Regions from separate parts of the Homo sapiens genome. Here region 1 is linked to region 2. The links come from fine-mapping of genetic effects on gene expression. A gene starts in region 2. The other region holds a variant in brackets. All regions are shown on one strand. Distances are from middle to middle.

The links. PIP is the estimated chance that this variant, and not a neighbour inherited with it, causes the effect.
Region 1: its variant is fine-mapped to the expression of ESR1 in spinal cord (GTEx, PIP 0.99).

Annotation. Positions count from the first base shown.
Region 1 is chr6:151,876,740-151,882,123 of GRCh38, forward strand. It overlaps ESR1 (estrogen receptor 1), which reads left to right. Exons shown (of 8, transcript NM_000125.4): 3 at 3,916-4,032. Among named protein-coding and RNA genes, the nearest start is that of ESR1, 72 kb to the left of the region's middle. The variant T/C (reference allele first, on the strand shown) is at 2,255.
Region 2 is chr6:151,804,893-151,810,276 of GRCh38, forward strand. ESR1 (estrogen receptor 1) reads left to right here and starts at 2,790. Exons shown (of 8, transcript NM_000125.4): 1 at 2,790-3,472. The coding sequence starts at 3,021.

The sequences.
Region 1 (5,384 bases), 72 kb after region 2:
TTCACCTCCTGTCCCCTCCACTTCCTGCCAGTCAAACCTTAGATTCCTCCAGAGGCTTTTTATTTTTATCTTTTGATGGGCAAGAAAATAGTGCGGATTATTTTTCCAAACCTTCACCTGAACATCACATCGTGGCTTTGGCCCTATGGGCTTGGTTCATCCGGGCCTGCACAGAAGGACTTTTCGGGCCAGTCTGGTCACATACATCGAGTCCTGTCTTTTCAGTTAAAAAAAAACACACACACACACACTGCTATGTTTCACTAAGACAACTGGTGTGAGTTGTTTTTTAGAAAATCAACTCTACTTCAGTAAGATTTTCTCAAGCATTATCTTGAGAAGACCAGATAATAAAATTTAAAAAGAATTTCTTCTTTTTTTTTTATTATACTTTAAGTTTTAGGGTACATGTGCACATTGTGCAGGTTAGTTACATATGTATACATGTGCCATGCTGGTGAGCTGCACCCACTAACTCGTCATCTAGCATTAGGTATATCTCCCGATGCTATCTTAATGCAACTTAAATCAATTGCTTTAATAACACATATTGACCAAGTTACACTCATTAAGGAAAAAAAACTACTTTGTTGTTTTTCTTCTTCTGACGTGAGCTGAAGACTTAGAAATAGTTGTTAATAGTGTTTGGTTAATAAGAATTTGTTTTAATTGCATATATCAAATATGTATTTATTAAACTTTTCTTTTTGTCAGTTTATCAATTCTAGCTTTGTCACAAAAGGTTTGCCGTATGAACATGATTCTGTTGTACATCTATTTCCATTTTTGTTAAGAGACGAATTCAATTGTAAAAATCTAGTACCTTTTATTCATTAAACATGTTAGTTCAGGAATTTCACTTGGTTCTACAAAGATACATATCTACAGTGGATGGCCAGTGCAAACATGAGACTCAGCCAACTGGTCTCTGACCCAATTCAGTTCTCCTGTCTTCTTCTGGCTTACAAAGTAACTGGCTCTGGGGAGAAAGTGAGTCAAAGTAATATTTGGTTTGAATGGTTATTGACTATTTTCTTCTGAAACTTAATGTATACTAATTAATTTTTTATTTTATTCTTTTTTTTTTAGAGATAGGGTCTCGCTCTGTTGTCCATGCTGGAGTGCAGTGGTGCTATCACAGCTCACTGCAGCCTTGACCTCCTGGGCTCAAGCGATTCTCCTGTCTCAGCCTCCCGAGTAGCTAGGATTACAGGCATGTGCCATCATGCCAGGCTAATATTTAATTTTTTTTTTTTGTAGAGACAAGATATTGTTATGTTGCCCAGGCTGGTCTAAAACTCCTGGTCTCAAACTATCCTCCCACCTCAGCTTCCTGAAGTACTGGAATTATAGGCATGAGCTGCCACACCTGGCCATATACTCATTTTTTGTTAAAAGCTGAAATATATCAGCATATACTGCATAAATACCACAGGAGACTAAACACTGAAAGTTTCTTTAGGGTATCAGAAGAATACACTTTTTGCTTGCAGTTAGCATCTGCACAGATAAGTTTTGTTTCTGGTTCTATTACTTCTTCAGTTTGACCCTATTAATAAGGACAATTCTAAAAATAATAACTGTGTCTGGATATCTGAATCCGTGTGTGGTCTTTTACTGAAGTTACAGGTTTATAACTCTGCTGACTAGTTTGCTGGTTTCTGTTATGCAATAGAAGAGTGCAAATGTTAATTTGATCTGAAGCCCGTGTATACAGTGACTTTTATAATGTATATTTAAAGATGGAAAGCCAAGTTTTATGAGGCCAGCATTTCTTGTCAAGTCCTCACTCCACCCTCTTCTAATTGGGCCTGACCCTTAAGTTGAATAAAGAACAAAGAGCTCTGTAGTTAAAACATTTCACTGCATGTTGCATCTTGCCCTTAGTAAATGGAAAAAAATAGAGACTTAAGCAGAGAATCTGAACTAGGGTGTGAAATATATATTCAGTTTTGGGGTGGGAGAATGAGAACCATGTTTTACAATAGTATACATAACTTCCTTAGTCTAAATTCAGGACATTTCCCCAAGATATGTAAGAATTTAGACTTATGCAGACAGACTTTATAAAAACATGCCAATATTTATTAGTTTGTGAATTTTAATATTCTGCTCCCTATAAACCAGATTTATTTTGAGGGATAAAGGGATGGAGGTGACTTCTAAATCTTAGAGCAGAAACTTCCTGTGGGCAGCTGGACATATGTACCAGGAGCTCAGAGAAGAGGGTTGTGTTGGGAGCGTACATTCTGAG[T/C]GATCTGCATTTGGTGATGATGGAAGCCATGGACATGCACTAGATTGTCTTGTGGGAGAATATGGAGTAGTAAGAGAAGAAGAAGACCTAGGATTGAGCCCTGAGCACCTCTGGCTTAATGTTGGATGGAGGAAATTGAATCTGTAAACAATACCGGGAGGCTGCAGCCTGAGAGGCAGAAGGAACTGGGGTGTTTGGGATTATGGAAGCCAAGGGAAAAAGCCTGTCTCACAGCGGGAAGGGAGGTATCAACATTGTAAGCTGCTTCAGATAGGTTATGTAGGATGTGGACTGAAAAATACCTGTAAAATTTGGCAACGCGATTCATTGGTAATCCTAGGGAAGTTGCTTTTTTGGGGTAACTAAGGTGGAAAACAGATTGGTGTGGGTTGAGCAATGCAAGAGAGGTGAAGAAAAGGAGATTTCATGTGCAGACGTTTCTGAGTTCAGCTGGGAACAAGGGATAAGATAGAAGATGGAAGTTAGAGAGCATGTGGGGCAAGGGAGACTCTTTTATGGGACAGTCTCGCATGTGATCAAAGCCAATGAGTAAGGAGCATTTGAGGGAGAGAGAGTCAATCAACAAGAGAGAAAAGAAAGAGGGTTCATCATAAAATAACGGTAACAACAACGAACATCTTTTGAGTGTTTTCTATATCCGGGGAACTATGGTAAACTCCTAACCTGCATTCTCACATTCAATTCTTAGAATCGTTGGATGTGGTGGGTTCCATGATTTCCTCTAGATTAGCGAGGAGGAAAGAGAGATCTAGAAATGTCAGGTAGCTTGCTCAGAGTTCTCCAGGTAGTCAGTCATGGACTAATTTGTGAACTGAAGGACTGAACTTCGTCACCACCCAGCCCACCAAGCCGGCTTGACTTTAGGTATTCTGTGCTGCATGTGAGTACCGACTTAAATTATATTTTAAGAAGGGCTACTTTGAAACTCTCTCTCTGAAAACTCTATTTCTAAAAGCTCTACCCTCACAACAATTTTGGCAAGCAGTCTTGGTAAAACCAAACCAAACCAAACCAAAACCAAAAAACCTTATCTGCTGAGAAAATATAACCACATAAAATATGGTGCTACAAAATATAGACTGTGTGAACTGAAGGTGACTTGCCCAAAGGACTCCTGAAGCAATTGGCTGCTGTAGAAATTAAGTCCACGGGAGGTTTTTTGTTCTGTTTTTTTTTTTTTTTTTTTGAGATGGATTCTCACTCTGTTGCCTAGGCTGGAGTGCAGTGGCGCAATCTCGGCTCACTGCAACCTCCGCCTCCCGGGTTCAAGCGATTCTCCTGCCTCAGCTTCCTGAGTAGCTGGGATTACAGGTGTACACCACCATACCCAGGTTTTTTTTGTATTTTTAGTAGAGACGGGGTTTCACCATGTTGGTCAGGCTGGTCTTGAACTCCTGACGTCGTGATCCACCTGCCTCGGCCTCCCAAAGTTCTGGGATTACAGGCATGAGCCACCGTGCCCGGCCCATGAGAGGTTTTGTTTGCACTTCAAGAAGGACAGAAAAAGGCAGGCAGGCTGGGGAGCAACATAGTAAGGCTGAGGAAGTGATAGGAAAACAGCCTCCAAAAGGTTTCCCTGTAGATTCTGACTGGCTAAGTTTCCTGAAATAATATTAATTCTGTCCTCTTGCTTTTAATAGGACATAACGACTATATGTGTCCAGCCACCAACCAGTGCACCATTGATAAAAACAGGAGGAAGAGCTGCCAGGCCTGCCGGCTCCGTAAATGCTACGAAGTGGGAATGATGAAAGGTGGTAGGTACATCTCTCCCAGGGGCCCTTGGGGATGGCCCTGGCCACCGCCCAGTGCTGGCTCTACCCATTGGAATAACACCATGGGAATTTTGTGTTTTTTTCTTTTAATTGTTTTTTTTCTATTCTTATTTTTCTTTGCAACAAAAGTATTTTCATAATCCATTTTATTTTAAAAAGGTGGAAGTGTCTGGAACTGGAAATTCTAACATGGCATTTTGTGTTTTGGATTTTCAATGTAAATAATTATATTTTAAATCAAAGGTGTGTGGGAGGCGGTGATGGAAGGAAACGAAGAGTGCTTAGTAAATTATTCTAGAAATATTTTTCAGTTACTGTTTATGTTGCAAATGCTAGAAAATGATATCTGAGGATAAACTTTCCCTAAATTGAGACTTGTAAATGTGAAAGCTGAGTAGCTAATTTATAGCCTTCCAGTCTGTTATCATCCCTTAAGGAATGTGAATTTCAATCAAAAGGCAGTTTTCTCCTTTAGAACCTGAGTGAACCAGCCACTTTCTTAACCTCAGTGTCTAGCATGGTGCTGGCATAGTTGATTACTGAGCACTACACTAACAAGTGTCAGAGCATGCATGGTTTGTGACTGTGGGTTTGTGTTTTTGTGGTCTTTGTGGCTGTGTGTGTGTGTGGTTTTCTGTCTTCTCATGTATCCGATCTTCCAGTTTTGTCATACAGGAATCTGGAAACTGAATCCCAGTTCTGGGAATATTAGGAGCCCCATAAATGTGGTTGCCTGATTGACCTCATTGTATTCTTGGGAGTCTCATCTTGAGGAACATTGCTTCTAGTCTTGGATAGCCTTCAGTGTAGTGGAAGAGAACAAGTAGAAAATGTGTAATTAAAATAAAGTCATGAGGCTGAGGTGGGCAGATCATCTGAGGTCAGGAGTTCGAGACCAGCTTGGCCAACAAGGTGAAACCCTGTCTCTATTGAAAATACAAAAATTAGCTGGGTATGGTGGCGAGTGCCAGTAGGCCCAGCTACTTGGGAGGTGGAGGCAGGAGAATCACTTGAACCTGGCAGGTGGAGGGGGCAGTGAACTGAGATGGCGCCACTGCACTCCAGCCTGGGTGATAGAGTGAGACTCTGTCTCAATAAATAAATAAATAAATAAATAAATAAATAAATAAATAAATAAATAAAGTAACGGATTCATTTAGTGTTTCAGAAGGATACTGAAGGGAGGGAAGGGCTGATGATGGTGCTACCTGCTGATTGTAATAGGGAAAAGCCCGTTTCTTTTCTGAAGGAGGTGAAGCTTGGGGTGATTTAAGGAGAACAAAATTTCAATGAAAAGGAATAGTGATTTTGCAAATAGTGGGCAGCTAACCTTT
Region 2 (5,384 bases):
AAAGTGGTCAAGAGGTGGATCCATGTGAACGCCACTGGGAAATGAGAGACCTCGTTCCCAATCACGGTCAGTGCAACTCGAAAGCCTAAAATCAGTTTAAAACAAAGGTATCTACCTTTATCTTATGTTCATATCCTAGGCTTTTAATAATACGTATTTTTCACATGTTTACAGAAAGCAGTCAACTGAGCTATTCATGGAAAGGTTTGTGGGTTTGGTTAACGAAGTGGAGGAGTATTACATTTCAGCTGGAAACACATCCCTAGAATGCCAAAACATTTATTCCAAAGTCTGGTTTCCTGGTGCAATCGGAGGCATGGCAATGCCTCTGTTCAGAGACTGGGGGCTAGGGCCAGTAAGGCATTTGATCCACATGTATCCCAGAAGGCTTTTATTGTTAAATTATATTCTTTCGGAAAAACCACCCATGTCCTATTTTGTAAACTTGATATCCATACACTTTTGACTGGCATTCTATTTTAGCCGTAAGACTATGATTCACAGCAAGCCTGTTTTTCCTCTTGCTTGGGGTGGCAGCAGAAAGCATAGGGTACTTTCCAGCCTCCAAGGGTAGGGGCAAAGGGGCTGGGGTTTCTCCTCCCCAGTACAGCTTTCTCTGGCTGTGCCACACTGCTCCCTGTGAGCAGACAGCAAGTCTCCCCTCACTCCCCACTGCCATTCATCCAGCGCTGTGCAGTAGCCCAGCTGCGTGTCTGCCGGGAGGGGCTGCCAAGTGCCCTGCCTACTGGCTGCTTCCCGAATCCCTGCCATTCCACGCACAAACACATCCACACACTCTCTCTGCCTAGTTCACACACTGAGCCACTCGCACATGCGAGCACATTCCTTCCTTCCTTCTCACTCTCTCGGCCCTTGACTTCTACAAGCCCATGGAACATTTCTGGAAAGACGTTCTTGATCCAGCAGGGTAGGCTTGTTTTGATTTCTCTCTCTGTAGCTTTAGCATTTTGAGAAAGCAACTTACCTTTCTGGCTAGTGTCTGTATCCTAGCAGGGAGATGAGGATTGCTGTTCTCCATGGGGGTATGTGTGTGTCTCCTTTTTCTTTCAGGACTTGTAGGATTCTTTGTGCCATTTGCATATAATTTGGCAGGTTCACATTTTTTAAGAGCCCTATGAAGTGCTTTTTGCATGTGTTTTAAAAAGGCATTTGAAAATTGAAAGTGTGATTTATGGAAATTAAATCATCTGTAAAAAATTGCTTTGGAAAGTAATGATTGCTGGCCATAAAGGGAAATATCTGCGATGCACCTAATGTGTTTTTAACCCTTTATTTGCTGACAATCTATAGTCATTAATGCTAAACTCGATTTTGGCTTCAGCTACATTTGCATATTGTCCAACAATGGTCTATTTTTGTAAGAATTAGATAAAATGTATACTTGATATAAAATAGTCAAAAATGTAACTCTTAGTAACAGTAAGCTTGGCATTTAGATAGACCATGAACACTTCGTCAGATACTCTGTTGGGTGTTTGGGATAGCAATTAAAACAAAGTATTGATAGTTGTATCAGAGTCTATTAGGCTGCAGCAAAGGAAGTTTATTCAAAAGTATAAACTATCCAAGATTATAGACGCATGATATACTTCACCTATTTTTTGTCTCCTTAATATGTATATATATATATATATATATATATATACACATATATGTGTGTGTGTATGTGCGTGTGCATGTTTAACTTTTAATTCAGTTAAAAACTTTTTTCTATTTGTTTTTCATCTGGATATTTGATTCTGCATATCCTAGCCCAAGTGAACCGAGAAGATCGAGTTGTAGGACTAAAGGATAGACATGCAGAAATGCATTTTAAAAATCTGTTAGCTGGACCAGACCGACAATGTAACATAATTGCCAAAGCTTTGGTTCGTGACCTGAGGTTATGTTTGGTATGAAAAGGTCACATTTTATATTCAGTTTTCTGAAGTTTTGGTTGCATAACCAACCTGTGGAAGGCATGAACACCCATGTGCGCCCTAACCAAAGGTTTTTCTGAATCATCCTTCACATGAGAATTCCTAATGGGACCAAGTACAGTACTGTGGTCCAACATAAACACACAAGTCAGGCTGAGAGAATCTCAGAAGGTTGTGGAAGGGTCTATCTACTTTGGGAGCATTTTGCAGAGGAAGAAACTGAGGTCCTGGCAGGTTGCATTCTCCTGATGGCAAAATGCAGCTCTTCCTATATGTATACCCTGAATCTCCGCCCCCTTCCCCTCAGATGCCCCCTGTCAGTTCCCCCAGCTGCTAAATATAGCTGTCTGTGGCTGGCTGCGTATGCAACCGCACACCCCATTCTATCTGCCCTATCTCGGTTACAGTGTAGTCCTCCCCAGGGTCATCCTATGTACACACTACGTATTTCTAGCCAACGAGGAGGGGGAATCAAACAGAAAGAGAGACAAACAGAGATATATCGGAGTCTGGCACGGGGCACATAAGGCAGCACATTAGAGAAAGCCGGCCCCTGGATCCGTCTTTCGCGTTTATTTTAAGCCCAGTCTTCCCTGGGCCACCTTTAGCAGATCCTCGTGCGCCCCCGCCCCCTGGCCGTGAAACTCAGCCTCTATCCAGCAGCGACGACAAGTAAAGTAAAGTTCAGGGAAGCTGCTCTTTGGGATCGCTCCAAATCGAGTTGTGCCTGGAGTGATGTTTAAGCCAATGTCAGGGCAAGGCAACAGTCCCTGGCCGTCCTCCAGCACCTTTGTAATGCATATGAGCTCGGGAGACCAGTACTTAAAGTTGGAGGCCCGGGAGCCCAGGAGCTGGCGGAGGGCGTTCGTCCTGGGACTGCACTTGCTCCCGTCGGGTCGCCCGGCTTCACCGGACCCGCAGGCTCCCGGGGCAGGGCCGGGGCCAGAGCTCGCGTGTCGGCGGGACATGCGCTGCGTCGCCTCTAACCTCGGGCTGTGCTCTTTTTCCAGGTGGCCCGCCGGTTTCTGAGCCTTCTGCCCTGCGGGGACACGGTCTGCACCCTGCCCGCGGCCACGGACCATGACCATGACCCTCCACACCAAAGCATCTGGGATGGCCCTACTGCATCAGATCCAAGGGAACGAGCTGGAGCCCCTGAACCGTCCGCAGCTCAAGATCCCCCTGGAGCGGCCCCTGGGCGAGGTGTACCTGGACAGCAGCAAGCCCGCCGTGTACAACTACCCCGAGGGCGCCGCCTACGAGTTCAACGCCGCGGCCGCCGCCAACGCGCAGGTCTACGGTCAGACCGGCCTCCCCTACGGCCCCGGGTCTGAGGCTGCGGCGTTCGGCTCCAACGGCCTGGGGGGTTTCCCCCCACTCAACAGCGTGTCTCCGAGCCCGCTGATGCTACTGCACCCGCCGCCGCAGCTGTCGCCTTTCCTGCAGCCCCACGGCCAGCAGGTGCCCTACTACCTGGAGAACGAGCCCAGCGGCTACACGGTGCGCGAGGCCGGCCCGCCGGCATTCTACAGGTACCCGCGCCCGCGCCGCCCGTCGGGGTGGCCGCCGCGCCCGGCAGGAGGGAGGGAGGGAGGGAGGGAGAAGGGAGAGCCTAGGGAGCTGCGGGAGCCGCGGGACGCGCGACCCGAGGGTGCGCGCAGGGAGCCCGGGGCGCGCGGCCCAGCCCGGGGGTTCTGCGTGCAGCCCGCGCTGCGTTCAGAGTCAAGTTCTCTCGCCGGGCAGCTGAAAAAAACGTACTCTCCACCCACTTACCGTCCGTGCGAGAGGCAGACCCGAAAGCCCGGGCTTCCTAACAAAACACACGTTGGAAAACCAGACAAAGCAGCAGTTATTTGTGGGGGAAAACACCTCCAGGCAAATAAACACGGGGCGCTTTGAGTCACTTGGGAAGGTCTCGCTCTTGGCATTTAAAGTTGGGGGTGTTTGGAGTTAGCAGAGCTCAGCAGAGTTTTATTTATCCTTTTAATGTTTTTGTTTAATGTGCTCCCCAAATTTCCTTTCATCTAGACTATTTGATTGGAAATATGTCAGCTATGATGATGACTTTCTGGGAAGCGATTCCTGTCACCCGCTTTCCCCTCCTCCCCACCCCACGTCCTGGGGCTTTAGAGAGCGATTGGGAGTTGAATGGGTCTGATTTCGGAGTTAGCTGGCTGAGTCCGCGCTGGAGCGGATTGCTGGCATGTGACTTCTGACAGCCGGAAATTTGTAGGTGTCCCGCGAGTTTAAAACAAGCCATATGGAAGCACAAGTGCTTAAAAATAATCTCCTGCCAGCCCAGTGACAAGCCTGTCCCACCCGGGGAGAATGCCCCGGAGTGGCGTGCGGGTCAGCCAGGGTCTGCGCCTCGCAGCCACTGTGGAAGGAGCGCGGCCGGTCCAGGACACAGGAGACCACTTTGTGACTTCAATGGCGAAGGTTGTGTGTCCTCATTTTAATTTTTTTCCCTACAAGAATTGTTCTTTCTCCCTCTCCTCTCCCTCCCATTTTCTCTTGCCCAGTTTCTCCTTTTGTTTTTTGTTTTTTGTTTTCCTGATGGGCCTGCAGAGGGATTAGGTGGGCGCTTCTGGTGAACACCTTCCTAGGTGGCCACAGGACAGGTGTACCCCGGACTGGGTTTGGAAGCTTCAGGGCGCCACATGGCTGGGTCCTGAATTAGGCATTTCCCAACTGTACACTGGTATCCGGACTGGTGTCCCTATATCTTTCTGCCTTGTAAGCCGTGGACCAGTTTTTGTTCAGTATTCTGTTTCCAGGGATATTTATAGCAGAAGGAAGGGGACTAAAGTGCAGTTTGGCCCCAGAGGATACTGAAGGGCAGATTCTGGGGGTATTCAGTGTGCATCTTCAGCCGCCTTGGAGAAATTTAGAGCATCCCACAGCCACGCAGATCCAAGCTGTCTTTACTCAAAAGACAAACAATGAACAAAACTTTTAAAGGTTGGCATATTTCAAATTAATTTTACTTGTTTTAATTTAGGGTTAAAACAGAGAAAAAGGATTTCTTCTGCCCACCTTTTTTTTTTTAAATGGAAGAACAAAGTACAGCGATTAAGTCTAATTCCACACAACATTTAAAACTGCTTGATGTGAAGGAAGGCACTGGTATGATGTGAATTCCATAACCTTATGATGGACTCCAGAAACCATTTTCTTCCCTATTTAATTTTCAGTTCTTTTATTGCAAATTAATGCTGCTGAATTTCAATGGGCACTAATGAGACTGCTCCTTGGTAGATTATTTACTGCCTTGCTAATAATTACAAAGTGAACCTGGTCAAATACAGAGGGGATCGCATCTTATTCAAAATTGTTCATCATCCCAGTGATAAGTGGTATCAGTGTAATATGCCCTATCTTACACTTTCTGCATTACATGATATTCAAACACTCTTAGAATAATAAAAAAAGAGACAAGGAACT